5 separate regions of the Homo sapiens genome follow, and regions 2, 3, 4 and 5 are each reported to be linked to region 1. The links are microRNA targets in miRTarBase. Many come from high-throughput screens and were not tested one by one. Region 1 holds a microRNA gene; each other region holds the end of a gene's coding sequence.

The links. The annotated mature microRNA hsa-miR-3190-5p reads UCUGGCCAGCUACGUCCCCA and lies in region 1 at 2,156-2,175, shown strand. An mRNA with a match to its seed (bases 2 to 7 or 8) in the 3' UTR can be bound and repressed. Matches are read on the target gene's strand: a 7mer-m8 pairs with bases 2 to 8, a 7mer-A1 pairs with bases 2 to 7 and ends in A, and an 8mer does both.
Region 2: miRTarBase lists EVC as a target of hsa-miR-3190-5p. Seed matches in the 3' UTR shown: 7mer-m8 at 2,835-2,841 and 7mer-A1 at 2,746-2,752.
Region 3: miRTarBase lists C2orf49 as a target of hsa-miR-3190-5p. Seed matches in the 3' UTR shown: 7mer-m8 at 728-734.
Region 4: miRTarBase lists EMC7 as a target of hsa-miR-3190-5p. The part of its 3' UTR that is shown has no 7-base or 8-base seed match.
Region 5: miRTarBase lists WDR13 as a target of hsa-miR-3190-5p. Seed matches in the 3' UTR shown: 7mer-A1 at 2,484-2,490, 7mer-m8 at 4,017-4,023 and 7mer-m8 at 4,421-4,427.

The regions. Positions count from the first base shown.
Region 1 is chr19:47,224,800-47,229,799 of GRCh38, forward strand. It overlaps MIR3190 (microRNA 3190), which reads left to right and starts at 2,143; the gene lies at 2,143-2,222. BBC3 (BCL2 binding component 3) reads right to left here. Exons shown (of 4, transcript NM_014417.5): 2 at 3,359-3,647; 3 at 1,765-1,955. The coding sequence starts at 3,632. MIR3191 (microRNA 3191) reads right to left here and starts at 2,220; the gene lies at 2,145-2,220. RefSeq lists enhancers at 575-1,074, 2,283-3,225 and silencers at 1,148-1,707, 1,202-1,368, 1,738-2,037, 3,258-3,697.
Region 2 is chr4:5,810,174-5,816,254 of GRCh38, reverse strand. It overlaps EVC (EvC ciliary complex subunit 1), which reads right to left. Exons shown (of 21, transcript NM_153717.3): 20 at 5,805-5,916; 21 at 1,950-5,302. The coding sequence ends at 5,218. Among named protein-coding and RNA genes, the nearest start is that of CRMP1, 80 kb to the left of the region's middle. RefSeq lists an enhancer at 3,224-3,273.
Region 3 is chr2:105,344,953-105,350,941 of GRCh38, forward strand. It overlaps C2orf49 (chromosome 2 open reading frame 49), which reads left to right. Exons shown (of 4, transcript NM_024093.3): 4 at 363-4,259. The coding sequence ends at 419. Among named protein-coding and RNA genes, the nearest start is that of C2orf49, 10 kb to the left of the region's middle.
Region 4 is chr15:34,079,340-34,085,460 of GRCh38, reverse strand. It overlaps EMC7 (ER membrane protein complex subunit 7), which reads left to right. Exons shown (of 5, transcript NM_020154.3): 5 at 975-1,444. The coding sequence ends at 1,127. Among named protein-coding and RNA genes, the nearest start is that of EMC7, 19 kb to the left of the region's middle.
Region 5 is chrX:48,603,556-48,609,676 of GRCh38, forward strand. It overlaps WDR13 (WD repeat domain 13), which reads left to right. Exons shown (of 10, transcript NM_001347217.2): 9 at 717-835; 10 at 1,293-5,314. The coding sequence ends at 1,477. Among named protein-coding and RNA genes, the nearest start is that of WDR13, 9.1 kb to the left of the region's middle. RefSeq lists a silencer at 2,586-2,880.

The sequences.
Region 1 (5,000 bases):
CTGATCTCGGCTCACTGCAACCTCCACCTCCTGGGTTCAAGAGATTCTCCTGCCTCAGTCTCCCAAGTAGCTGGGATTACTGGCGTGTGCCACCATGCTCAGCTACTTTTTGTTTCTTTTTTTTTTTTTGAGACAGATTTTCGCTGTTGTTGCCCAGGCTGGAGTGCAATGGCACGATCTCGGCTCACCGCAACCTCTGCCTCCCGGTTTCAAGCAATTATCCTGCCTCAGCCTCCCGAGTAGCTGAGATTACAGGCATGTGCCACCACGCCTGGCTAATTTTGTATTTTTAGTAGAGACGGGGTTTGTTCATGTTGGTCAGGCTTGTCTCGAACTCCCGACCTCAGGTGATCCGCCCTCCTCAGCCTCCCAAAGTGCTGGGATTACAGGCATGAGCCACCACGCCCGGCCTTAATTTTTGTATTTTTAGTAGAGACGAGGTTTCACCATGTTGGCCAGACTGGTCTCAAACTCCCAACCTCAAGTGAGCCACTTGCCTCCGCCTCCCAAAGGGCTGGGATTACAGGCGTGGGCCACTGCACCAGGCCGAAAATGGCTGTATTTGTTGTTTCTTTTTTGAGATGGTCTTGCTCTGTCCCCCAGGCTGGAGTTCAGTGACCCTTCATGGCTCAGTGCAGCCTCGACTTCCTTGGCTCAAGGGACCCTTTCACCTCAGCCTCCCAAGTAGCTGAGACTACAGGCCCGCGCCACCACACCCGGCTAATTTTTGTATTTTTTGTAGCAACGGGGATCTCATTATGTGGCCCAGGCTGGTCTGGAACTCCTGGGCTCAAGCGTCCTTCTATCTCCGCCTCCCAAAGTGCTGGGATTACAGGAGTGAGCCACCGTGCCTGGCTGAACATAGATGAATGGAAGCTCTTTTGCCCATATGGTGAATCTGAAGCCTAATATTGAGGGAAAAAGGAATTCTGGGGAGAAACAAAAACTATGTCATATACGCTAAGCTAAGAATGCTCCATGATTCTAAGCCCTGGTTCTGGCCTGGTAAATACGGAGTAAAAGCAACACCTGCAGGGGTTGAGAGAGGCCAACTCGAGAGATTTCCTTTGGATGCAAGGAGGGGGAAGGGATGGGGAGAGTAAGGAGCTTCACCACATGCGTTTCTGCGGTTTTGTTTGGTTTCTTAATAAGCAAGCAATGCGGGTGTAATGTTCAAACTGAACAGAGCTGCCTGGTGGGCGCATGATGTTTGTGATTTCCCATTCTCTGCTGTGGGCTTCGAATATTTGTTTTAAAAAATCGAGGCCGTGCCAGGGGCTGGGGGGCGGGGCCTCCCGCGGGGCGGGGCTGCGAGCCCACCCCTGCGGTCCCCGGCCCGCCCCGGCGCCCGGGAAACTGTGTGGCGCTGCGGGCCGCGCGAGAGGGACGGCAGGGGGCGGGCGCGGCGCGGCTGCTGACTCACCGGCTATAAATAGCCCGGGATATATGAGCCGCGCCGCCCAGCGCCGCCCTCAGTCCCCGCGGCCGCGGGCCACGGGCGCGCAGCTCCACTCCTCGGCGGCCTAGTCCCTGGCCCTGGCCCTGGCCCTGGCTCGGGCTCCGGCTATGCCAGCCGCGGCGCGGAGTCCTTGGGCGGCTCTGCGGGCGCGCGATTCCCCCCCACCCACTTACCCCCCACCTGCCTGTCCGCGGAGCGACCCAGCCGCGCAGGGCAGCAGCTGCCGCACATCTGGCGGGGGCCGCCTGCCGCCCCCTCCTCCGGCGGAAGTCCCACCTGCCGTCTACCCCACCCCCAGCACTCACCCGCCGCTCGTACTGTGCGTTGAGGTCGTCCGCCATCCGCCGCAGCTGGGCCCCGATCTCCCGGGCCCACTGTTCCTCCTCCCCGCGGACTCCCGGGGCCGCCTGGGTGGGACCGCCCGCCAGAGCCCCCGGGGCGCTGGGCACGGGCGACTCCAGGTGCTGCTCCGCCAGCGAGAGCGAGGGCTGAGGACCTTGGAGAGGCAGAGGGGCGCGGTCAGCACCCACCACCCCTCCAGGCCTCGAGGTGTCTCGGCCTGCTCCCCTCTTTCCCAGCCACTGCTCCCCGCCTCATTTCTAGTGATCCCATCGCTAGTGAGTCAATTTCTCAGCTTCTCCTCCACAGGCACCAGAAAGCAAGAAGTACCTGGGGACGCCGCTCTGGGGTCACCTGTCTGGCCAGCTACGTCCCCACGGCCCTTGTCAGTGTGGAAGGTAGACGGCCAGAGAGGTGACCCCGGGGGTGGTCAGGCTTAACGACCTCTATTTTCCAAAGGGGCCACATTTTGCCTTTTCCATGTGACAGGCAGGGAAACTGAGGCCCGCCCTTAGGGAGTATCCCAAGGTCACACAGGGATACAGTGACTGACCCCACCCAGATCACAAGCCTCAGGTCTCCTGCCCTCTCGTGTCCAACCACAGGGAAGCCACACCTCCGGATGTGGCAGAGGCCTAGAGACCAGAAGGCCAGAGACTGTGGCAGCTTCAGAGCGCGGGCCTGGGGGGCTGGGACGCGGGAGATGCCTTCCTGCCCCCCCCCCCCCCCCACTTCTGAGCGCCCTAGGAGGCTCCTGCCCTCCCGTCCCACCAGGTCCTGGCCTGAGGGTTCCCTAAGGCCTACAGCCAGGGCCTCAGTTTCCACATCTGTGACCTTGGCCTTGAAATCGGTGTCCCCTTCCAGGGCTTCCAGGAACTGAGTTAGGGAAGTTTTCTCTTTCCTCGCTCCCCTTGGGCTGCCGGGACAAGATGGGGGATGGGAAACCAGGACACACTTTCCCTAGAGCGCCTGCCGGCAGGGATGGGGCTCCACGGGCACCACAGGGTTAACAGCCCATCAGGCAGGGGACCTTTAACCCTTCCCTCCCCAAGACTCCCCCACCTCCCCGAGGGGACTTCCCAACACAATGGCCCCTCCCCCTCTCCTTCCTCCGCCGGGACTGCTGAGGACAGCCCCTGGCCAAAGAGATGCAAATAAAAGCAAAAGGCCTCTCGACCCCTCCCCAGAGGCCAGAGTTGACAGTCCTCCCGCTCGGCCCACTCTCCCTGCAACAGGAATCCTCCAGGGGGTCTAGAGGACCCAGACTGGGGGAGGGGAGCTGGGATGCAGCTGTTGCCCCAGGCCCGGAAGAGACAGTGGGCTGCAATTCGGGGACTGCAGTCAGATTCCAGGAGGGACTTCCCACTTGACCTCCCCCTCCACCCCCAGCCTCCGTCTTCCTGCTTCTTGCAACACAAAGACCACATTGGCCACACCCTCCCAGTGGCCCGGCTGGGCCCGCCACCTCCCCCCGTCCTCTCCCACTTCTCCAGTTCCTCCGAGTCTCCAGCCCTCTCTCTTCCCGGCTCCTATCACCCCGGGGGCGGGGCGGGCACTCACCGTCCGGGCGCGGGCCTCGGGGCCGGCTGCGGGGACCCCCAGGCCAGCGGGAACCCCCCAGGGCGGCGGTGACGGCGGGTGGGGCGGTGGGGGCGCAGAGGTAGGCAGCGGGCAGCAGGGTGGGGGCGGCGGGGGCGGCAGCCAGGCCGGGCTCGCAGAGGCCGCAGGACACTGCCGAGGGCACCAGGCGGCCGAGCGGGAAGGGGCGCGGGCCGTCGCGGGCCAGGCCCTCTACGGGCTCCGGGGAGCTGCCCTCCTGGCGTGCGCGGGCCATGGCGCTCCCTGGGGCCTGCGGGACACGGGAGGAGGAGCAGGTCAGCAGGGAAGTACCAGGGCCCACTGTACCTCCAGCCTACCCGGGGTTAGGACCCAGATGGAGAAGAGTGGAGGTGTGTGTGCATGCGGAGGGGGTGACGGCCCCACAGAGACACGCCCAGCCGGGGGATGACACCACCGGGTCCTGGCTGGCCTGGAGAGCCTCCCGTGCATACGGTGATGGGCACACAGGAGGGACAGGGGGCACAGGACGGCTCTCACAGCAAGGACAGGGCTCACACAGGACGGATGGAGGGGTCTAGCAGGTGTGTGTATGAGGGCTGTGACAGTCCCACAACACAAACTCACTCCACTTGGGACTCACAGCATGGGCTGGTGGGGACAACTTTCCCAACACAGCGACGGGCACACAGGGAGGGCAGTGAGGCACAGCGAGGCCCCCACAGCACACACACAAGGACTCACACGGGACTGGCCAGCCTGACCGCCCACCCCACCTCCCACTTGCACACAAACACTGAGATGGCCCCAGTCTCGGACATCACTACTCAGTACACACAATACACACACACCCCCGACCAAAGCAGGAGCATCCAGACAGACCATCACAAGCACTCTACATACTGCGCACACTGGCTGGCACAATCCATCCCCACACATCCAAACTGTCAAAGTCTCACACACTGACCCACTGTTGATATGCCCAGGGGCACATGCAAACACAATGCAGCCTTTGCAAACACAAACACACACACACAAGCTAGGCACTGCCTCAGTTCCCAAACATGCCCCTCTCCACACACACACACTCACTCCAGAGATAAGACCTGCACACCTCTGGACTCACATATCAACACAAAACAGACACCCACGGACACACATACATCAACACCCCCAAAACACACCCACATGTCACCAACTCTCAGGACACACGTAGATCAGGCACACACAGACACATGCCATCAGACCTCAACACACCACCAGACACCAACCCACCCTCCTCACGCAACCCTCAAACATCATCACCAACTGTCAGCAACACACACACACACACACCCTACAGCTAACTCTAATCCCACACAGCCCAGCAGCACACACACCTAGCGCACCCACAGAAAACACTGGTCTCACGTGACTGACATAAACACTACACACACGCAGCCCACATGACACACATGAGCCAGCCGATCACAGTGACAAGCCCCTCAGACCCAACACACACACACACACACAGGCTCAGACACAACCCCATCCAGAGGCTGCCAGCAACACCCACCGTCTACACTGCATAGACCCCACAGATCCTGGGTCCTCAAATCCCAGACGCTGATGCCAGACACACAAGCCAAACCCAGACTGAAACAAC
Region 2 (6,081 bases), not on the chromosome of region 1:
ATGAAGAGCTCACCTCAGACTAAGTCCAGCGGCTGGACTGCAGGCTATGTCGGTGGGCAGGAGGTGCATCAGGAAGTGGACCAAGTCCATCAGCGGGAGCCCAGTGGGGAAAAAACAGATCCCCAGGCCTCCTGTCCAATCTGCTGACTCAGAATCTCTGGGATGGGGCTAAGAATGTTGTTTTTAATGAGCCCCTGGGTAATGCTGACACACAGCCAAATCTATAAGCCATGGGGGGAAAATAGTATTCCTGGCCTCCCTCCCTCCCTCCTTCCTTTCCAATCCATACACCACAGGAGGAAAGTATATACTCAGCGTTCCTCCCTCCCTTCCTTCCAAACCAGTTGCCACAGGAGGAAAGGAATATTCCCAGGCCTCCCTCCCTTCCTTCCACCAGGTGACCATGAATGCCTGTTATATGCCAGGTGGCATGTGGCCGGTCAATGGTGTACATTCCAGGGGGGACGTCAGGTGCGAATCAAATGATTACTCAAAGCACCGAACTGCACACTCTGTTAAGGGCTATAGAGGAAACATTTAGGGGAGAATAATCCCATCTCCCACTCCTCTGGTTTCCATAGAGGGAGGGGCTTCCACTCTCTGGGGGACAGCACAAGGGACTTCCCTGGCCCCTCTCCCTCTCTCTTTTATTCTTCTCTGGGGAGGAGGAGAAATACCTGATTGGCCAGTCTGGGAAGGATCACTCCCAAGACAGTGCCTGCCTCTGGATCGATTCGTTCCCCCTATAAATCACGCTTTACCCTCTAAACGGCCACATTTCCCCCATTTCCCGTCTCCCTATGAGGGTGTGGAAGCACCTGGACCTCACTGGTTTGTGGGGTCATCACTCTCCTGCAATTCCCCATGCCATGCACGTTACGTTGGAATGCTTTTCTTTTTCCTATTGGTCTGCCTTTGGTCAATTGTTTCTCAAGGAGCCTTCGTAGGGTGGAGGAAAAGCTTGCCCTCTGTGCCCCACAGCTGATTCACTGTAAAGCTCATGGAGCTCACACTTCTGCCACCTGTGCACAGACCCCACCGAGACCCGGGAGTGGGCTTAGCCACGGGTTCACTGACACATTCCTTACAGTTTACAATGCCACAGTCAGATCTTTTAGCTGCAATCCTTAAGACCACTGTTCCCTTTCCTGCTGATGCCACTGCATATCAGGTGACACTAGGGAGGCCTGGGACATTTGGAGGATCTGGGTAAGGGCCAGTTGAGTTGGGTTTAGTGGGATTGTTTATGTGGGTCTCACTGTACACCTCTGTGTATAGTGATGAACTTGGACAAGAAATAAAGGAAGGTTATTTATATGCTCCCCCACCGACCTCACCCCAGTCCCAGCAGCAAAGAACACAGGACCTAGAATCTAAGGGGGGCCCTGATGTTGTTCAGGGTTGGGGGCAGAGGGGGATCTCTGGAGATGTGAGTCCTGACTCCATGTGAGGAGTGGCTAGGAGCCACTGGGCAGAGGGCTGGGGAGGGGGGCAGGGGTCTTCCAGAAAGAATGCACATCATGAGCAAAGGCCCAGTGGGGGGCAGGGGTGTGGCCCATGTGAGGCCATGAGAGAAGACAGGGACCAGGTGCAGAGTGAAGGGGAAGGGCATCTGCTAGGCCGCAGGGGTGGGCTCAGCCTAGACCTCTCTGAGCCTCATGGTCCATGGTAAAGATCTGGCTTTTTCTCCTAAGAGCCAGGGAACGCCGCCCATAAGGCCAGGCAGATTTGCGTTGGAGAACATGTGATGGGCGGATGGCAGGGGCAGGAGAGGCTTCTGTGGCAACAGCAAGATCAGCACCGCCCTGGCCAGGGCCTCAGAAGGAATGTGGTGCAGAACGTGACCCCTGGTTGGCCAGGAGGGTCCTGGGAGAGTGCACTCACCCTGGGGGAGTACAAAAAACCGTGCTGGCTTCATCCTGCGGTCTCAAGTACAGGTCAGAGGGTGCTATTTTCACCAAAGAATTAAATCATGAGTTCATCATAATACATCATCTCTCATGGTCCCCTTCCAAATCCACATCCATCCATCACCATAACAGCCCACAGCCCATAATAAGTGGGGATGGTAACCAAAATGGAGGCAGGGTACCTGCGAGGCATCCTGGGGCTGCACTGCTGATCCTCTTCTCTCTCCCCTGGCCCTGAGTGCTGCCTTCATGTGGCTCAGCCCTTCCGTCCTTCAAGCCTTCATCAGCTTCAGGGCAGCCCCGAGTCTGTGCCCAGGTACACTGGCTAAAATGCAGTGTCTTCCAAATAGCCATATCTCATTTTAATCAGGGAGCAATTCCAGCATGGAAGTCCCCATCATGCTCCTGCTGGCAGGTACAGGTGCCAGTTTGTGACGGATGAAAGCACCGACAGCCCACGCGTCTTCATCATGGAGGCCTGTGCCCCAGACTGTGCCCAGCACAACAGCTGGGCGGCAAGGGTGGGCCAGGGTCGAGCAAATGACACGTTCCCTTTGGCTAAGGAAGACACCCCAGAAGCAAAATGCTCCATGCGACAGCCAGGCATTCAGGCTACAAGCTCGGTGGCGGGGAGGCAGCCGGGAGCCTTCTCAGAGGAGAAGGGTCCCGTGATCATTCCACAGATGCTTTCAGAGCTCTGGGCTCAGGGTAACCGACCAATTATGGTGCTGCCAGAGGGCCTGCATTTACTATACACACGTCACAAAATCAGGCTTCCCCGGGAGGAGCCATCGGACTCTGTGCAGAGGGCCCATGTGACAATATAAAAGTGATTTCTGGCCGGGCGCGGTGGCTAACGCCTAATCTCAGCACTTTGGGGAGGCCGAGGCAGGTGGACGATGAGGTCAGGAGTTCGAGAGCAGCCTGGCCAGTATGGTGAAACCCCGTCTCTACTAAAATAAAATACAAAAAAGATTTAGCCAGGCGTGGTGGCACACGTCTGTAGTCCCAGCTACTGGGGAGGCTGAGGCAGGAAAATCGCTTGAACCCGGGAGATGGAGATTGCCATGAGCCGAGATCACGCCACTGCACTCCAGCCTGGGCAAAAGTGATTTCTATGCAAAGCAGGTTTTAAGAATATTGCACCAAGGAAGCCATAGCTTTGCACAACTCCATGGAATAACCAAGTTTTTTAGTGAACCACAAGAGGGAGCTGTTGGTTAACTTTGGAGAGCCCACTGGCTGATGGGTGAGGAACTGAAGGAAGCGCTCTGATGATTAAGTTTTGGCCACTGGGAAGGAGTCACTTGTTTCTAAGAGAGTCTATTTCAGGTTTTAAGAAATGAAAAGTCACAAATGACCCTGAAAATTCCTGAGATAGGGGCTCCCAGAGCCAGAGGGCTCACTAGGTTCTGGGGATTTTTGGACGTATCCACGGCTATGTCCTGGATTAGACCAGGGCAAGGCACCCTTTGACTCAGCACAGTGGGTGATAACCCCATGGACACGGGGCAGTGTCTGGAGACATCCTTGGTTGCCACGAATGGTGGGAGTGCTGGCATCTGGTGGGCAGAGACCAGGGACACTGGAACATCCTGTGATGCTCTGGGCAGCTCCTTCCCCTGAAGAATGATCTCGCCCGGTATGTTCACAGTGCTGAGGGTGACAGTCCCTAACCTCCATCAAAGGAGCAATTTTCCCTCCAGGTGGGAACGGCCTCTCCTGGCTGTGGTGAGAGGGGCTGGTCTGGAAGTTTCTCTCCAGGTGGGAAAGGCCTCTCCTGGCTGTGGTGTGAAGGGCTGGTCTGGAAGCTTCTCTCCAGGCAGGAACGGCCTCTCCTGGCTGTGGTGTGTGGGGCTGGTCTGAAAGTTTCTCTCCAGGCAGAAAAGGTCTCTCCTGGCTGTGGTGTGAGGAGCTGGCCTGAAGCTTCTCTCCAGGCGGGAAAGGCCTCTCCTGGCTGTGGTGTGAGGGGCTGGTCTGGAAGTTCCTCTCCCGGTGGGAAAGGCCTCTTCTGGCTGTAGTGAGAGGGCTGGTCTGGAAGTTTCTCTCCCGGTGGGAAAGGCCTCTCCTGGCTGTGGTGTGAGGGGCTGGTCTGGAAGTTTCTCTCCCGGTGGGAAAGGCCTCTCCTGGCGGTGGTGTGAGGGGCTGGTCTGGAAGTTTCTCTCCAGGTGAGAAAGGCCCCTCTTGGCTGTGGTATGAGGGGCTGGTCTGGAAGTTTCTCTCCAGGTGGGAAAGGCCTCTCCTGGCTGTGGTGTGAGGGGCTGGTCTGGAAGCTTCTCTCCAGGTGGTAAAGGCCTCTCCTGGCTGTGGTGAGAGGGGCTGGTCTGGAAGTTTCTGTCCAGGTGGGAAAGGCCTCTCCTGGCTGTGGTGTGTGAGAGGCTTGTCCGGAAGTTTCCAGGCGGGAAAGGCCTCTCCTGGCTGTAGTGAGAGGGCTGGTCTGGAAGTTTCTCTCCAGGCTGGAAAGGCTTCTCTTGGCTGTGGTGTGAGGGGCTGGTCTGGAAGTTTCTCTACCGGTGGGAAAGGCCTCTCCTGGCTGTGGTGAGAGGGGATGGTCTGGAAATTTCTCTCCAGGTGAGAAAGGCCCCTCTTGGCTGTGGTATGAGGGGCTGGTCTGGAAGTTTCTCTCCAGGTGGGAAAGGCCCCTCCTGGCTGTGGTGTGTGAAGGGCTGGTCTGGAAGCTTCTCTCCAGATGGGAAAGGCCTCTTCTGGGTGTGGTGAGAGGGCTGGTCTGGAAGTTTCTGGATGCTCTCAGCATCTATCAGGGAGAGCAGGTGCCCCCATGACATCTCTCTGCACGGGCAGGGTGTCTACTGTCCGGAAGAAGCCCCTCCCCAGGTGAAGTGAGGGTTGGGCCACACCCTCTTCCTCATATTCTAAGTGTCCTCAGAGAATACATTTCTGCAGGTGTCATTATGTATCTGTGTGTCCTCAGCCCCAGATGGGCCCAGACAGGCCTTTGGGCCAGGGATTCCAGAGTCTGCATCAGGGGTCCTTGGCCTGAGGCTCGGACCCCTCAAGACGTCCCTCCTTGGGGAGAAAGATCCATGAGGCATCGAGCCAGGGCTCCAAGCCAAATGAAATGCAAACTCACAGAGACGTGTTTCCAAGACGGGAATGCCTAATTTTCTCAGGTGATACTCATTTATGCTTTTAGGGCACATTTCTATTCTTTCTCTGTCCCTCTCAGAAGAGCCTAGAGATGCCGCTGTCCTCTCCGTCCTCGCTGCCTCTCAGCACTGCAGGAGGGAAGGTGGAATTCACACCCAGACCCAGGGCTTCAGGTCTTGTCCCACCGACTGGTCTTAAACTACAAGTTGCTTCTTCTCTTTAGCATCTTCTTTGAGTTCCCACTGTCCCCAGCTTCACTTTCTTGCTGACTCAGCCTTTTGCTGCTTAAAACAGAGAAGAAAGGCAGCCAGTTAGAACGCTGACTCCATGCCCATCATGATGCCATAACTTACCCAATCGGATTAAATGAAAATGCAGCCAAAGGTGATCAAAACAATTTTTACTTTGACATGGGTTGTTAAGAAACCAATAAAACCCGTTTCCCTCCTTGGGTAGGAGGTCATCCAAGTGCCATGACCACAGCCATCCCTGGTCAAAGAAGGGACTGCCCAACACTTCAGGCTGGATGCCAATGGGGTGTGGAGGTAGGTCAAGGCTCATCTGGCCAAATGAGACACAAACAGGAAGGGTAACAGCCATGTGGCACCCCTGGTATCATCATGGCTTACTGCCCACAAATTACGTTCATATCTGTCATTTCTTGAACCTTCACATTTAATGCCTCTGAGGGGACTGATGATTTTCCTGCCCTGACTTTTGGCACACAGCAGCTGAGTGCATTTACCAAACCCAGCCACAGGCAACAGGTCCGGGGCCCAGTCATACCTGAGTGAGCCTGAGGTCTGGTCCCCGGAGGCAAGGTCCTCATTGTTGGGCACCCCCAGGTCCCCTCTTTCCTGGGGCAGGGGCTTCTTCCTTTTAGTCCTTAGGGGCTTCTCTGTAGAGGACAGATGAACCCAGGCATGGCTCTGTGACTTTAGACAAGTGACAACTTCTTGCAGCCTCACACCAACCCAGCCTGACATTTTTGAGCATGTTGTGTGGGCCAAGTGTATGCTTGGTATCTTATGCTATTGCAGCCACTCAACTAATGAGGAAACTG
Region 3 (5,989 bases), not on the chromosome of region 1:
GAGCAGTCAGTGGTTTTCAACTCTGATTGTATGTTAACATCACTTGAGGAGCTTCCAAAAAAAGCAAAAAGAAGTCAGAGCCTTATCCCCCTACCTTTTATGGATTCTGGTTTAATTGGTTCTGTGATAAGACCAGGCCTGGGGCATGTTTTTAAGTGCTCTAAGTTATTCTAAACTACACACATTTGAGAACCACAGAGCTAGAGAACTCACCCCTGTTTCTTTAAATATATTCCCACCAGATGGCAGCAGTGATCTTCCATTAATACATTAATAGTAAACCTTGGTTGTTTGAAATGTTCATTTTAGTTGTTTTCTGATATTTCTGCAAGTATAAACTGATTTCTGTTCATGTCTTTCAGAATAACCTGAAGCCCCCACAAGCAAAAAGGAAGATACAACATGTTACTTGGCCCTGAAGAAAAGTTTCCAAAAATGTAAATATACTGTAACTGTAGTTTTTCAAATATGTTCATATATATTGACAATATTTACAGAAATCCTGATTATTGTGGAATTTTCTTAAGAGGTTTCAAATAGGTTTAAAAAAATAAAGGATTTATTTTCCTTCCCTTCTTCCCTCCCTCCCTTCCTTTTTTAAAATTCTTGCCTGTCTTGCCCTGATTAGGAAAGAATATCTTTTTAAACCAATGGCTTAGTATATGTCATTTATATTGACCCTACTGAAATTATTAGCTACAAATGTGCTATAAAGCATCCATTGAATTGGCCAGGCGCAGTGGCTCACGCCTATAATCCCAGCACTTTGAGAGACTGAGGTGGGCAGATCACCTGAGGTCAGGAGTTTGAGACCAGCCTGACCAACATGGAGAAACCCCGTCTCTACTAAAAAATACAAAATTAGCTGGGCATAGTGGTGCATGCCTGTAATCCCAGCTATTCAGGAGGCTGAGACAGGAGAATCGCTTGAACCTGAGAGGCGGAGGTTGCGGGGAGCCAAGATCGCACCATTGCACTCCAGCCTGGGCAACAAGAGCGAAACTCCATCTCAAAAAAAAAAAAGCATTCAGTGAATTTTCGGAGTTACTCTCATTAGCCTTGTTCAGAGTCTTTGGGGGAAATTTGAGATTTTTGAGATTTTTTTTAAAAACTCAAATATTTTACTAGTTTGCCTGCCATTTTATTTCTTTTACAAAGCAGAAGCATATACCAATTTATCACAGTATTTTAGTAAATACTGCAACATTCATCCTTAAATGTTCACCAAGAAAAGCATCTTTGTAGTAGTGCTGGAAAACTATTCAGAATATACAGATAAAAATGCTGTTCTTTAATTGCTTACATTGCTTCTTCCCATAAAAAGCAAAAAGGAATCAGTGCTTGCTATTGCTCCTTTCCTTGAAGTTGTAACAATTGATACATATATTATGAGTTGACTGGTCGATTCTGTACCTGGCCCATCCTTTAGAATGTTCTTGTCATGTAGCAGTCCTACGTACTCTTTTCATGAGCAGTCTGTGATCTCACTCTGTGAGTTCAGCTATTACTCGCTCGTGGGAGCTTAATCTTTTCAAAATGAAGTTGATTTAAAAAGTCTTCAGGCAGAGTAATCATGTTAGAGGTGGTATTCGATGGAAGAAAGTTTAGAGAGTTAGGAGTGGGGGTAGAATTCTAGAATTTATAAGAGTCCAGGAAGCATAGCAGTCAGGGGCAAAAATTAGCGTAATATGGAGTAGGCAATAGAGGAGCTACTGGAGTCAGAAGTCACTGCAGAGTGCAACATAGGAAGATGGACTCCTAGCTTACATGAGATTCCCTGCAGCTGTAATATAGACAATTCCCACATGGCTGTTCTACACAGAATTACCTGCTAAGATTTTTTGTTTATTTTTGTTTGAGTGGTATTTTCACTCCAATTGTATAATGGAAATCAGTGGGAAAATAGGGTTTACCTTATATTCATGAGTTCTAGTTTCTACTGTTCTGCTATGTGTTTCTAAGCAAGAGCAAAGGATACTTCATACTTTTTTCGTTATATGATTGATCTTCAAATTGGGATTTACCTTTTTCAATATGTTTTAAAGTAGTCTTATTCCTCTTTTGATTTGTTAAACAAGCATTTTAGTTCAGCTATTGAATAGCCTTCCAAAAAATTAATTCAGCCTTGCAGGTAAGTACCATACTAAGACTTTAACCCAATAGTTTTTAATCATTCTGCCTTTATTCCAAACTGTAAATCTGTACACATAAGATAAAACATACTAAGTATTGCATAAATTGTTAACGTTACAGTAAATTGTTATCTGCAGGGCTGACAGACATAATGTTGGTGGGCAACTGTGATCCTATACATACATATATGCAAAAGGGGATTTTAAAAGTGCAGATTATAGAGTAGATTGACAAATTTTATTTTATATTCAGTTGTCCTCTCTGCTTCCATCTGTGTTGCTCTCTTAGTTGAGAGAGAGTTAGCCATTTGACGATTTTAAGTCAGTGGGAACTTATTTTTAGTTACTCAATAAAATTAATATTTTATTTGTATTTTAACTTACAGAGTAGGTTGGTAATAACAGCTGAACTGTGTAACATTGTTGCTTCAAATTGAAGTTTATATTATGAACATTCAGAATCAATGCTCATGTAGCAGCATATTATTGAGCTATTTTGAGTTTGAAATGTGGAGAAACGCTAAACCATGTACTATGTGTTAACATAATCCCACCTTCTTAGAGCTTTGTTCCTTCTGAAGGTGTATAGATACAGCTTGTCTTGAAATGTCTTTCTCCACATAATGAAGCATGCTGAATGCTGGGAATCTGGAGCAGCAGCCCTGGGAGCCCTGAGTTTTGAAGTGTTTTGGTTTGCTTCAAAGGTTAGAAGAACTTGATATGTATGGCAAACAACTTTAGAATACTAGTTACTCACTAACATGAGGCGGGTAATGTTGCTCTAGATTCTATATTCCAGTAAAGCCAGCTTTTCTTATTATTGGAGTAGGCAAATGAATGGCATTAGAATTAGTGGGTGGCTTGTAAGTTGTAGTTATAGGCACTTTACCACTTCCTGCCATTAGCAGGCATCCTTGTTTTTTCTTTTCCCTCTTTGTTCCTTCTTTTCCCTTTCTCCTTATACATTTTCTTTCTCTACTTTAATTCTCCTTCCTCCTTACTGTAGATCCCAAGCTTCTAGCTTAGGTTTGCAAGTCATATTGCTTGGCCCTCCACATTCACTGAGAGGTGAAGATAGGCTGACCCCCTGTCCTCTTACATTTGAGGGATCATAGACTGCTGTGTGAATTCTGGAAAGTCTCAGGTCCCTACCAGGGCACTGAATGGCTTCTCAATGGCTGTAGAGACAGTACAGTTTTCCAAAGCAGCCTAATTCATCTGGACAGCTACCAGGCACTTTGGAAAGTTGGTTCAGTTACTACTATGAGGCCATAATATATTTGCTGGTATTAAAATTCTTCAGAATTGGAATTACTATTTGAAATAATATTTTGGTTGACTTAAGTTTTGAGAGACAATTCTAAAATTGATCTAGAGACTCATTCAATAGCAATGTGACCTTTTAAATACTTACATTAAGTAAAACTGCCAGTAGATTAAATCATATATATATATATATATATATATATATATGTAAGAGCTTCCTCTATTTACTACTGTTGAACTTCAGTAATTTTTAGAGGCTAAATAATGGTCAGAATGTTTTTAAGTGTGCTCTTTTATTACATGCTTGTGCAGGTTTTGTAATTCAGTACAGAAAAGTTTAACCTTGTACATTTTTGTATGTAAAAAGTCTTTTAAGTAGTCTTATCCTTATTTAAATAAACAGAATAAAATTACCTTGAGTAGGTCTGTTATTCTTATTAAAATGGAAAAATGCTCTGTAATGACTTGATCTGTTTTTATTTGAGTGAACAATTTTGGAAAGTATTCTTTATAGTACAACTTTCTATACCTGGATTGATTAAGATCAGATGTGATTCGAGTAGTCCAGCCATATCTTGTAGCCCTTCTTTGAATGAGAGGGTGGCTGGAGTGGTCTGGTGCTGGGATATCACGGTGCTACAGAGCCTGACATGTTGACTGTCACTACATGTTGAGGGATGGAAATAGAAGTCTCTGAACTTCCCATGTAATATTAAAGCTCTTAACAAAATGAGACAAACTAGAGATTCAGTTGAGAGATTTTATGTTAGAGTGATCTGAAAAAAAGTTAATTTCTAAACTGCTATCTTAATATTATTATATTTGGAGACTGATGCTGTAAATTAAATAACTTGGAAAAGACTCAGGTAACTTTCTACTTTGTCTTTTGTTTTGTTTTAGAGATGAGGTCTTGCTCTGTCGCCCAGAGTGTAGTGCAGTGGCATGATCATAGCTCACTGCAGCCTTGAACTCCTTGGCTCAAGTGGTCCTCCTGCTTCAGCCTCCTGTAGCTGGGACTACAGGCATGCACCAGCACACCCAGCTTCTACTTTGTACTTAACACATAGATTCTTCATTTTTTTTGTCTGGACAGAAGAGACAAAAATCTTATTTCCACTTAGATTGTTTTTACTAAAGTGCATTTTACTAACTAAAGTGCATTGCTTTTTCAGTTGTTTAGTAGCTTGATCATCTTATTGTGGAATAAAAAATAGAGATTAGAATTGCCTGTGTATTTGTTGAGTACCTACTATGCTAGCTCTTTCTTGGGAATGAACAAGGCAGATTAAGTACTTGCTTTCATAGAGAAAACAGACAGTGAACCATGAAATAATGGGTAATTGTAATGGTAGAAAGTAAAACAGGGTCAAGAAATGGTGAAGGATGAAGAAAGTAGGATGAGAAGCTATTTTAAATACAGTGGTTAGGAAAGGCCTCTGAAGATACTATATTTTGAAGAGAGCATGCCTAAGGCATAGCTATGGAGAGCTTTCAGGAGAAGCATTCTACATGTGTCCAGTTTTAGATGGCTGCATACTCCTCCCATCAAGGCTGGAGTCAGCTTCCCACCACTTGTATGTGGACCTGGCCTTGTAACTTGCTTTGATCAAGTGAATGCTTCTACTCTTACACTTGGACTTCTGCTTGCAGCCATGTGAAAAAGCCCAGGCATACCCACTGGAAATACATGGCTCACCCAACAGCCAGCACTAACTGCCAGATGTGACCACTAGTCACCTATCCCCCCCGGTCTAGCTGCCGGCTGACTAAAGTTGTATGATGAGCTTCCTGGTGGGATCAGTCCAAATTGATGACTCTCAGAATCATGAGTGAATAAAATGGGAGTTGTATAAAGCCACTAAGTGTCGGGGGTAGTTTGCTACCCAGCAGTAGTTAACAGGTCCCAGACAAGGACAAAACATGAAAGCCCTAAGGCTTACTAGGTTCTTAGAACAGAAAGACTGGTGTGGCTCCAGTGAATGAAAACGGGCAGTGGTAGTATAAAATGAAGTCAAAGAAGGTAGGCAGGAGCCAGATGATGTATGAATGTAGGACTTTGGATTTGATTCTAATACCAATTGGAAGCTGTTTGTTAACTCTGTTGAGACTTAACCAAGCATTCAGTTTAATCAAAAATAGACTAGTTGAGTAAGTCTGTAATAGCCCTGTCTTTTATCCTCAAGTAAAATTAGCCAAGTGTTGTTTTCTTTTTTAATCTTCAGGTAAATAGTTTAAACTAAAACTTACTTCTTTGACTAACAAACATTTAGGAGACTGTAAAATGCTTTACCAGTTATGGTGAAAGACAAATGCTTTTCATAAATATAAAACCATCCTATCTTTCGAAGCCTTCTGTTTTGTCTGTTCTGCCTTGCTATATAAGTTTTTAAAATAAACTTTTAAAAAATAAACTAGGACAGTTAGATTTCTGGAGAAATTGCCACAGTAGTACAGATTTTTAACATACCCCACACTGTTTCCCTACTAACATACATTCATATGGTACCTTTGTTGAAATGACTCATTGTTAACTAAAGTTCTTAATTTTTTTCGATTTTCTGAGTTTTTCCCTAATACCCTTTTACTGTTCC
Region 4 (6,121 bases), not on the chromosome of region 1:
ATTTGCTATCTTTTTCATGTATGAATGAACTAAAGTCAATTTTAAGTTCACTTTGAGAATGTCACTTAAAATTTAAATGAAGCAGATGTTACATTAATATTATATAACTATCAAACAGTACTTTATAGATTTTTGGCTCAATTAAAGGGGAGGACAAATACTCAAAAGTGCCAAGTCCTATCCTGTTTTGCCAATGACTTCTTTGTAACAGTGTGTTGCTTGCTTTAGAGTCTAATTGAAGTCATGCAAGCCATACAGCATTCATAGATTTACTACTGAGGCTTATAAATGAATTCTTAGAAATATTGCACTTATTTTCCAAACTGTACTGATACCTTGATATATAGTTAAAAATTAATATTCTGGTTATATGCATCTAAAGGAAGCATGAACTTAAAAATGTACTCATTAAAACAATAAGAAATCACTTTAATCAGAAAACATAAAATAAGAGAGGAATATGATCAAATATATTCAGTATCAGAAAAAAGTGTTCTTTATTAAGACAAGCAGAATCACACGAAAGGGAACATCACACACAGGGCCTGTTGTGGGGTGGGGGGAGGTGGGAGGGATAGCATTAGAAGATATACCTAATGTTAAATGATGAGTTAATGGGTGCAGCACACCAACATGGCACATGCGTACGTATGTAACAAACCTGCACGTTGTGCACATGTACCCTAAAACTTAAAGTATAATAATAAAAAAAAAAAAAGGCAAGCAGAATCAAACCCTAGGCAGTCATTTATTGGACATTTACTAAGAGTCAAAATGTCTAGTGGTATAAAGGAGATATGGAAAATAGTTACTAATGATATATAGGTGAAGTACTACTGAGTATGATGTTGCATCATTGCTCAGAACCAGTACCTTTCACTTGTTCTACTCCTTTACTTTTTCCTTAATAGGAAGTGTTAGGAGTTAAAAGACTCGAAGGATCCTACATATCATTGTGCCTTGTCTTCTTGCAGGAAATGGAGCAGTCAATGAATATGCTGAATTCCAACCATGAGTTGCCTGATGTTTCTGAGTTCATGACAAGACTCTTCTCTTCAAAATCATCTGGCAAATCTAGCAGCGGCAGCAGTAAAACAGGCAAAAGTGGGGCTGGCAAAAGGAGGTAGTCAGGCCGTCCAGAGCTGGCATTTGCACAAACACGGCAACACTGGGTGGCATCCAAGTCTTGGAAAACCGTGTGAAGCAACTACTATAAACTTGAGTCATCCCGACGTTGATCTCTTACAACTGTGTATGTTAACTTTTTAGCACATGTTTTGTACTTGGTACACGAGAAAACCCAGCTTTCATCTTTTGTCTGTATGAGGTCAATATTGATGTCACTGAATTAATTACAGTGTCCTATAGAAAATGCCATTAATAAATTATATGAACTACTATACATTATGTATATTAATTAAAACATCTTAATCCAGAAATCAAATCATCTTTCTTTTTTTTTACTTAATGTTTCTTTTTTTCTGACAATTTTCTTCAATTATCTGAGGCTTGAAATTTACCTTTCCTCTTTAAAAGGGAGTGGTTGTTATTTTTAGACAGCATGCACATTGTTTTTTATGTGGCCACACCTTTCAAAATTTTCAGCTCTCTGCCATTTAATTCTCTGATAATCTGAGCCATATGTTGCTGATGTAGTTTCAATTTTTTATTATTACAGTTAGTTTCAGAGTATGGATATATGAATCACAATAGATCTTATCAACTATTTTATTCTGGTTACCATCTATGGTATTCGTCTTACAATTATTGAGTACCAGCTTTGTGCTGTGATGCAAGGTAGAATACAGAGATGGATAATATACAAGTGCTTCTCCTTGATAGAACTTATTATGTCGGGAGGGAGGACAAATAATAACAGGGAATGAATGGCCAGGGGAAAGAAGTACAACAGTAGGAGAGCCTTCTAGATCCTGAGGATGGGGAATCAACCTTAGACCTCCATATTGTAACAGAGATATATAACACAGGTAGCTTTTCAGTCCCCTCATCTTTCTCATCATAGATTCTCAGAGGTGTTAGAAGATAAATTACTACTTTCTTTTTTTTTTGAGAGAAGTCTCGCTCTTGTACCCCAGGTTTGAGTGCAATGGCTTTATCTCGACTCACTGCAAACTCCGCCTCCCGGGTTCAAACAATTCTCCTGCCTCTGCCTCCCAAGTAGCTGGGATTAAGGCACTGGCCACCACAGCCAGCTAATTTTTGTATTTTTTAGCAGAGACGGGGTTTCACCATGTTGGCCAGGCTGGTCTCGAACTCCTGACCTCAGATGATCTGCCCGCCTCAGCCTCCCAAAGTGCTGGGATTACAGGCGTGAGCCACCACGCCTGGTCTCTTTTTTTTTTTGAAACAGAGTTTCACCTTTGTTGCCCAAGCTGGAGTGCAAGGGCACGATCTCGGCTCACTGCAACCTCTGCCTCCTGGGTTCAAGCGATTCTTCTGCCTCAGCCTCCCAAGTAGCTGGGATTACAGGCATGTGCCACCATGCCCAGCTAATTTTTGTATTTTTAGTAGAGATGGGGTTTCACCACGTTGGCCAGGCTGGTCTCCAACTCCTGACCTCAGTTGATCTGCCTGCCTCGGTTTCCCAAAGTGCTGGGATTACAGCTGTGAGCCACTGTGCCTGGCCAAATAACTACTTTCCAATCGGGAGTATCTCAAAAGTTTTTTATTTCAATAAGTTACAACATTTTCACACCTTTTCCTTTTGGGTTATTTTAATTAAAGAACTCTCAGGCCACAGTACTGCTTCTAGTAGAGGGTTCCTATTCTTTCCCATATTAAATAACTCCTGTATTGCTTTCTTAAAGTTATTAAATCAGTGAAAAAAACAGAGTAGCTTCCAAACTCAATTTTCTCTTTTGTATTAGGTGCTATTGTTCATTTAAAAATGAGGTACGTGTTTTCTCTTAAAGAAATACGTTCTGGGCCGGGCGCTGTGGCTCACGCCTGTAATCCCAGTACTTTGGGAGGCTGAGGTGGGAGGATCACCTGAGGTCAGGAGTTTGAGACCAGCCTTACCAACATGGTGAAACCCTGTCTCTCCTAAAAATACAAAAAATTAGCCAGGCTTGGTGGCAGGCGCCTGTAATCCCAGCTGCTGGGGAGGCTGAGGCAGGAGAATTGCTTGAACCTGGGGGAGGTGGAGGTTGCAGTCAGCCATCATGCCACTGCACTCCAGCCTGGGTGACAAGAGTGAGACTCTGTCTCAAAAAAAAAAAAAAAAAAGTTCTGATGCAGAACATTTTATTAACTGTTTCTATTTATATTACATACACTGTTACCAAACTGGTTAAGCTATGAATGATTAGATGGGTCAACAGGTTAATGATAGAAGTAGGTCTTTTAAAATCGAGTCATTTATGAAAATAAAGTGTTAGAACACTAGCTAAATGTCGTTCATTCAACTAGTATTCTAATTTTCACTTAAAATTAGTGTTTTAGGCCGGGCACGGTGGCTCACGCCTGTAATCCCAGTACTTTGGGAGGCCCAGGCAGGCAGATCATGAGGTCAAGAGATCAAGACCATCCTAGCCAAGACGGTGAAATCCCGTCTCTACTAAAAATACAAAAATTAGTTGGGCATGGTGGCATGCGCCTGTAGTCCCAGCTACTTGGGAGGCGGAGGCAGGAGAATTGCTTGAACCCGGGAGGTGGAGGTTGCAGTGAGCCAAGGTCACGCCACTGAACTCCAGCGTAATGACAGAGTGAGACTCTGTCTCAAAAAAAAAAATTAGTGTTCTAATTTTCACTTAAACATTAAGTTAAAAAAATGACATTCTCCTTTGTAATTCAAAGGAGACATAGTAAGAGTCATATGACCAGAAACCATGTTTTAAAATTTCATAATTTACCTTGTGACATGTGTTTATCTGTGTAACAAACCTTCACATGTACCCCCAAACTTAAAAAATAAATAAAAATTTTATAATTTAGATTGTCAACATTTGCACAACACCTAATGACTGAGAAATTAGGAAGCACTTCCAAGGAAATTACTGTTTCATATGCTACATAAGAAACTGGTTATTTTACATGGATTCTAACAGCATCTGAATATAATCTATACCCCTTATATATTATGTATACCCCTTATCATATTACCTCTAAATATAATATATACCCCTTATGAAATGTATCAGTTGTGTATGAAAATCTTATATTTTCATAGAACCATCATCAAATGCTTAAGGTGCTTATAGGCACAGAAATGACTATATATTATTGGACAATATGGGGTTTAGTGCAAAGAGCCCCTGGTTAGCTGCTAACTTGCTTTGTGACTTTGAGCAAGTCACTGTCCTGGACCATGTCTTGTCTTGGTCTTTGTACTATCTCTAGCATCTAGCATGTAGGCACACCAATAAAAGTTTGTTGAATGAATAATAAATGGACCTTAAGTTTCCTCATCTATAAATGGAAGGATTTGGATTAGACCTGTAAATTTCTTTTTGAAATTTCAAATTTGAAATCTCAAATTCTGTTATACTTTTAGCCCAGTCCTAGTATTTCCTACCCTTAAGAACCATATGATCAGTGCTGGCTTTCTTATTTTACTTCCTTGGATTCTTTCTGCTATTTCCCATTTGGAACAAAGTATTGTTTTGCTCTTCTTTAGAGCCTTTGTTAGATTTGGTTTATATGTATCTCCTTTTATTTATTTTTAAAATTTTATTATATATATATATATATATTATTTCTTTTTCTTTGAGAGGGAGTTTCCCTCTGTCACCCAGGCTGGAGTGCAGTGGCACCATCTTGGTTCACTGCAGCCTCTGCCTCTCAGGTTCAAGCGATTCTTCTGCCTCAGCCTCCCGAGTAGCTGGGATAACAGGCGAGTGCCACCACCCCTGGCTAATTTTGTGTATTTTTAGTAGAGATCGGGTTTCACCATGTTGGCCAGGCTGGCTCCAAACTCCTGACCTCAAGTGATCCGCCTGCCTTGGCCTCCCAAAGTGCTGGGATTACAGGCATGAGCCGGTCACTATGTATCTTCTTTTAAATGTAAGTTTTGTGTTTTATAATTTTTCACATCTACTGAATTAAATCTGAACAGTGACTTTGTGCAAAATAAATTTTGCTGTCCATTCTTGCCAAAAAGTCCTGAATGTCCAGGATGATTTCTCCAGGACATCTCTATTGCTCCCAAGTTTCAAACAGTTTTTTGGGAGCCAAAACCTCAGGATTTACCCTAGATCTGGTTAACATTTTGAAAAGATACAGGATTTTACCTAAACTGCCCTGAGTAGAAAACCATCTTGTCATTTTTCCCTTATGCCTTCCCTGACAGGAGGGCAGATACTATCACACAGCATACTTCTCAGTAGTTGGAAGGGTTTGAAGGTCCTGATAAGCAGTGTCCATAAAGATAAGGGAGAGCTTTTCATTTAACTAGTCACTCAGACTTTCAGGAAGTTTTGAGTGTTTTTTGTTTCTTTTTTTTTGAGACAGTCTCACTCTGTTGCCCAGGCTGGAGTACAATGGCGCGATCTCAGCTCACTGCAACCTCCACCTCCCGGGTTCATGCCGTTCTCCTGCCTCAGCCTCCCAAGTAGCTGGGACTACAGGTGCCCGCCACTATGCCTGGCTAATTGTTTGTATTTTTAGTAGAGATGGGGTTTCACTGTGTTAGCTAGGACGGTCTCGATCTCCTGACCTCGTGATCCATCCACTTCAGCCTCCCAAAGTGCTGGGATTACAGGTGTGAGCCACCACACCTGGCTTGTTTCTTTTTTTTTTAAGTGCTCAACTAGAGTATCTTTTGTTTAAAAACTGTTACTGAAAATATTTTTATTAAATATTTTAAACCACTATTTTCATTTTTGCTTATTGCCTTTCGGGTCACATATAGACATACATTTGCATGGTTACAATCATGTATGTACATTTTGTATTTAAACCCAGCAAAAATTCTGCTAAGCACCAATTTCAGGTAACCCAACAGAAGCTAGTGACTGAGTCTTTTAATTCAGCTCAAAGAGTATGTTGAGATGGGACCAGTTGTACTGAGCTCTTCCGCATTTTAGGTGTGATTATTTTCATTATTTAGAGTCTTAAATTTATAAGGCTGGTGAGAATATCCATTTGGTTTAAATGTTTATGT
Region 5 (6,121 bases), not on the chromosome of region 1:
GAGAATTGCTTGAACTTGGGAGGCGGAGGTTGCAGCGAGGCGAGATCGTGCCATTGCACTCCAGCCTGGGTGACAGAGCCAGACTCCATCTCTTAAAAAAAGAAAGAAAAAAGAAATGGCCTTTCCTACATTTCGAGTTTCTCACCAGGCAATGCCTTGTGGAAACCCCCCCAGGTTACCTGTGGGGACAGTGTTTTATTCTCTCTAAGGGCTGTGCAGTTTTCCACAGTGTGGGCATACCATGGTGTGTTCATTTCCTCTCTTTGTGCTTATCTTAATACCAGGATCTTTTAGAGACCCTTACAAAGAAAAACTAGTGAATGAAACTGCAGAGGCTCCCATTTATATCAACAGAGACAGTTTCTGAACCATCAGTAACTCACACATCAGCCCCTACTTATAGTTTATGTAGTCATCTCAGAATTGGGTTTCATAAGCTGGGTGTGGTGTGTGCCTATAGGTAGTCCCGGCTACTCGGGAGACTGAGGCGGGAGGATCACTTGAGCCTAGGAGGTTGAGGCTGCAGTGAGCCGTGATCGCACCACTACACTCCAGCCTGGGTGACAGAGTGAGATCCTGTCTCAAAAACAAAAAAAAAAATATGGGTTTCATGAACCCTGTAAAGAACTTAGGCACAGGGGTGGGGACACAGGCCCACAACTTGTCTCCCTGCTAGGGCTGGGGCTGTGTTTTGACCCACTCTCTCATCCTCTCAGGGTGGTAGACAACGAGGGGACCCTGCAGCTGAAGAGAAGCTTCCCCATCGAGCAGAGCTCACATCCTGTGCGCAGCATCTTCTGTCCCCTCATGTCCTTCCGCCAGGGGGCCTGCGTGGGTGAGTCCTGTAGGGACAGGGGATCTGGGTGGCTGGGGAGGGGCAGGAACCAGGGCTGGTGCCAACCTGGCTCAGACATCACGACACCGATGCCCTGACTTCCTGGACCTCATGACCCCTCCTGCCCCAACAGCCTCACTGTGGAACTCACAGCTCCAAACAGCTCAGAGAACTCACAGTTTGCACTTGATCTCGGCCAAAAGGCCGAGAAGTGATGAAAACTCACACTTTGAACGCACTAACTCCCCAAACAGCCCAGAGACCTCGCATTCTGCACACAGTACCAAAACAGCCAGGTGACCTCCCATCTAGGGATGGGGCCCCCTCAAACCTCCCCAAGCCATGCTAGGACCTCACACCTCGGACATACACCCTTCAACACCTCAGACACCTCAGGGACTTCCCACCAGGGGCACCCCAGGCGCCTCCCGATGGCCTCTCCCTCTCACCCCGACAGTGACGGGCAGTGAGGACATGTGCGTGCACTTCTTTGATGTGGAGCGGGCGGCCAAGGCTGCTGTCAACAAGCTGCAGGGCCACAGTGCACCTGTGCTTGATGTCAGCTTCAACTGCGACGAGAGCCTACTGGCCTCCAGTGACGCCAGCGGCATGGTCATCGTCTGGAGGCGGGAGCAGAAGTAGGGTCCTGTCGGCCCTGCTGCTGTCCTCCATCCCACCCCTCTTACTCCAGCCTCGTGTTGTAAATAAAGTTTCGGTGGTCATGCTGAGGGCCGGCTCCCAGCTCTGCCGGGGACGGACAGGGCAGAGGGCAGCGGGCAGCTCCAGGAACACGGTGGAACGGGGTTCATTGACTCATTTGTGCATTCATGCATCGACGGATTCATTCATTCCACAAGCATTGATTGAATGTCTGCTGGGTTACAGGCCCTGCCTTAACTGTTTTACACACTTATGCATTCGATAGACATTAGTGAGCCCTGACCGTGTGCCAGGAACTGTTCTAGGCACTGGGGATACTGCTCTGACCTAAACTGATGGAAATGCCTGCCTTCATTGGGCTTGCATCATAGCGGAGACAGTAGATAAAAACATGGAACAGGCCAGCTAATGATGAGTGGTATGAAGAAAATAAAGCAAGGATGGGAGACAGAGCTGCAGAAGTTGGGGGAGTGGGCTCTTTATGGTGACAGCATCAGGGAAGATGATCCTGACAGGGTGACTTTTTTGTTTTTGAGACAGGGTCTCACTCTGTCACCCAGGTTGGAATGCAGTGGCATGACCATAGCTCACTGCAGCCTCAACCTCCAGGGCTCAAGTGATCCTCACTTAAGCCTCCCAAGTAGCTGGGACTACAGGTGTGTGCCACCACACTCGGGTAATTTTTGTATTTTTAGTAGAGACGGGGTCTCGCCATGTTGCTCAGGCTGGTCTTGAACTCCTGGGCTCAAGCGATCCACTCGCCTCAGCCTCCCAAAGTGCTGGGATTACAGGCATGAACCACCACGCCTGGCTCAGGGTGACATTTAAAGACCTGAATGAAGTGAGTGGGAGTCATAGTGTAGGGGGAGAACATTCCAGGCAGAGAGAAAGCCAGCCTAAAGGCACTGAGGCTGGAGCGCTCCAGAAGGATCATTGTGTATGCCAGAGTCTTGCTGGACCAGAGTGTGACAGTACATGAGGTCAGACAGGCCAGATGCTTCATGGGCCACAGTTAGGACTTTGGCTTTTTTTCTGAGTGGGGGTGACCAGAAGGTGTCAAGCAGAGGAGGAACATGATCTGACTTGGTCATAGAGGCTCCCTCTGGCTGCTGAAGGGGACAGATTGGGGGTGGGGGTAGAAGCAGGGGACCCAGCAGGAGACCCCTCTGAGCGCAGTGATGGGGACTTGCACCAGGGTAGTGACAGTGGAGGAGTTGGCGGGGGAATGTTGGGTCGGACCCCCAGGGGGTTCACTATGTTAGGCTGCAGGACTCTGCTGCCTCCTCAGGGGGCGATATTCCCAACCCTTCTGTGCATTGTGTTGTTTATTAAAAGCAGGGAGCAGAGGTGTTGAGTCCTGGAGCCCCAAGCTGGTGCAGGAGCAACGGGAAGTTAAGGCTGACCTGGGGCCTCCTGCTGTGTGGCGGAATCTCCATCCCTCAGACCACCCCTGTCTCCTCCCAGCCCCATCCAGGGTACAAATTCCAGCCCTGGAACAGCTCAGAGACCAAAAAGTGATGTTAAGTATTTGAGGGGAGCCCCAAGAGAGGAGAAAAAGCTTTGAGTATTGATGGGGGTAAATAACCAAAATCACTTATCAGTGGCCTGCGTCACCAGAAAATGTCAAAGTTACCTGAAGCAGCAAAGAGGCTCTTGCTCCGGCCCCTCCCTTCCTTCTCAGCTCCATTTGTTGCCACATATGCGTTGACTGGAACTGCGACTGACATCTTGGGACCTTAGGGTCAGTCCACAGCGTGGTAGAGACTCCAGCTTGGCCCAGCATTGCTGAGCTGCTGAACTCGCACCAACAGTCTTGTTGGAGGGAAATAATCTCCCGTTTGTTCAGTCCAGTTATTTGACAGTGTGGTTACTTGCACCCCAAGCATTTCTAACTGGCACTTCCATCTAATAGACCTCAGGGTACATGGTGGTGAGATAGGGACATCAGTGAGCTGGATTGTTCCCATGGTAAAGGTCATGTATGTGTGTGTGTGTCATGGTCCTCAATACCAGCCCCAAGCCCAGTGATTTGCTAGGAGGACTCCCAAGACTCAGTATGTGGTTGTATTCATGGCTACGATTGACTTATTACAACAAAAAGATATGGAGCAAAATCAGCAAAAAGAAATGGTGTGCAGGACCAACTCCCAGAGAGACCCAGGCACAAGTTTCCAGGGCTTCTCTCTCATTGGAGTCACACAAGATGTGCTCGGTTCACAGTAATGGGTTGTGACAATACATGCGAAATGTTGCTGACCAAGGAAGCTCAATTAGAGACTCAGCACCCAGAGGTTTTTTTTGTTGTTGTTGTTGTTTTGGTTTTTTTTTGGCGGGGGGGGGGGGGTCTTGCTCTGACGCCCAGGCTGGAATGCAGTGGCATGATCTTGGCTCACTGCAGCCTCCACCTCCTGGGTTCAAGCGATCCTCGGGCCTCAGCTTCCCGAATAGCTGGAACTACAGGCGCGCACCAGCAAGCTCGGCTAATTTTTGTATTTTTAGTAGGGATGGGGTTTCACCATGTTGGCCAGGCTGATCTTGAACTCCTGACCTCAAGTGATCCTCCCACCTCAGCCTCCCAAACTGCTGGGATTACAGGCGTGAGCACCTGGCTGGTATCAAGTTTTTATTGGGGCATGGTCACATAGGCACCCCCTGCCTGGCACCTACCCAAATCCCAGGCTCCCAAAAGGAAAGCAGGGGCTCAGCATAAACCACCTTTTTTTTTTTTTTTTTAATTGAGACGGAGTCTCGCTTTGTCGCCAGGCTGGAGTGCAGTGGCGTGATCTCGGCTTACTGTAACCTCCGCCTCCTGGGTTCAAGCAATTCTCCTGCCTCAGCTTCCTGAATAGCTGGGACTACAGGCGCCTGCCACCACCACGCCCAGCTAATTTTTGTATTTTTAGTAGAGACGGGGTTTCACCATATTGGCCAGGCTGGTCTCCATCTCTTGACCTTGTGATCCGCCTGCCTCGACCTCCCAAAGTGCTGGGATTACAGGCATGAGCCACCGCTCCTGGCCCACTTTTTTATACAAACAGCTTAGGTAGAGTAAGCCATTCTTTTTTTTCTTTCTTTCTTTTTTTTTTTTTTTGAGACAGGGTCTCACTTTGTTGCCCAGGCTGGAGTGCAGTGGCTCAAACATGGTTCGCTGCAGCCTCAACCTCCCAGGCTCAAGCGGTCCTGCTGCCTCATCCTCCAAAGTAGCTGGGACCACAGACATGCACCACCATGACCCCAGCTGATTTTTGCAGAGATGGGTTTTGCCATGTTGCCCAGGCTGGCCTTGAACTCCTGGGCTCAAGTGATCCTCTCACCTTGGCCTACCAAAGTGCTGGCGTTACAGGTGTGAGCCACCACACCCGGCCCGAGTGAGCCATTCTTATCTCTTAGGGAATGGTGGGAACCCTCCTGGAGTCTATGTTCTTAGACACCACCCAAGGGCCAACCTTGAAGCAGGCCTTTCCAAGGATCGCAGTTGAGGCCTGCTCTGTTACTGTTTTTCTGCACAGTGTGCAACACCACACAGATGCCCAGTTTCTACCAAGGTCTGTGGATGGCAGGATAATTTTGAGGAACCTCCTTTTTCGCTAACACTTTCTTCTTTTGTTTACACTCTTCACATTGTCTATTGAGTCTGGATTCAAGATGATTGATTGTGAATATTGTTGTGCATGATTTTGGGGGTTTCCTCCTTGTGAAATTTTGAGGTGGCAGATTTGACATTCTACTTTAAACTCATCTTGGTGGCACTTTTCTTGACTCACCACCTAAGGGGGAATAAATAATGAAGAAAGAATAAAAATAGTGTTATCAGTCACATTTGGGCCTCGGTTAACTTGTTCAGCATCACTGGTTTCACATCAGATCTGAAGCTCTGTCAATCATTCCACTATCAATTCCACTCTGGTCTTGCCTCAAATCGAGGCTTCGATTAACTGTTCCCTGCCCTTTGTCTGACTTTGAACCTGTGTGTTTGTCAACTACTTTACCATCAAGAGCCTCTCTGGGCCAGGTGCAGTGGCTCACACCTGTAATCCCAGCACTTTAGGAGGCCAAGGCAGGCGGATCACGAGGTCAGGAGATCGAGACCATCCTGGCTAACACGGTGAAACCCTGTCTCTACTAAAAATACAAAAAAATTAGCCGGGCGTGGTGGCACGTGCCTGTAGTCCCAGCTACTCGGGAGGCTAAGGTAGGAGAATCACTTGAACCCGGGAGGCGGAGGTTGCAGTGAGCTGAGATCGCGCCACTGCACTCCAGCCTGGGTGACAGAGCGAGACTCCGTGTAAAAAAAAAAAAAAAAAAAAAATGGCTGGGCTCGATGGCTCACACCTGTAATCCCAGCACTTTGGGAGGCCAAGGTGGGCAGATCATGAGGTCAGGATATCAAGACCATCCTGTCCAACATGGTGAAACCCCATCTCTACTAAAAATGCAAAAATTAGCTGGGTGTGGTGGCGCGTGCCTGTAATCCCAGCTACTCGGGAGGCTGAGGCATGAGAATCACTTGAACCCAGCAGGCAGAGGTTGCAGTGAGCCGAGATCGCGCCACTGCACTCCAGCCTGGCGACAGAGCGAGACTAAAAAAAAAAAAAAAAAAAAAAAAGCCTCTCTGGTCTCAGAACG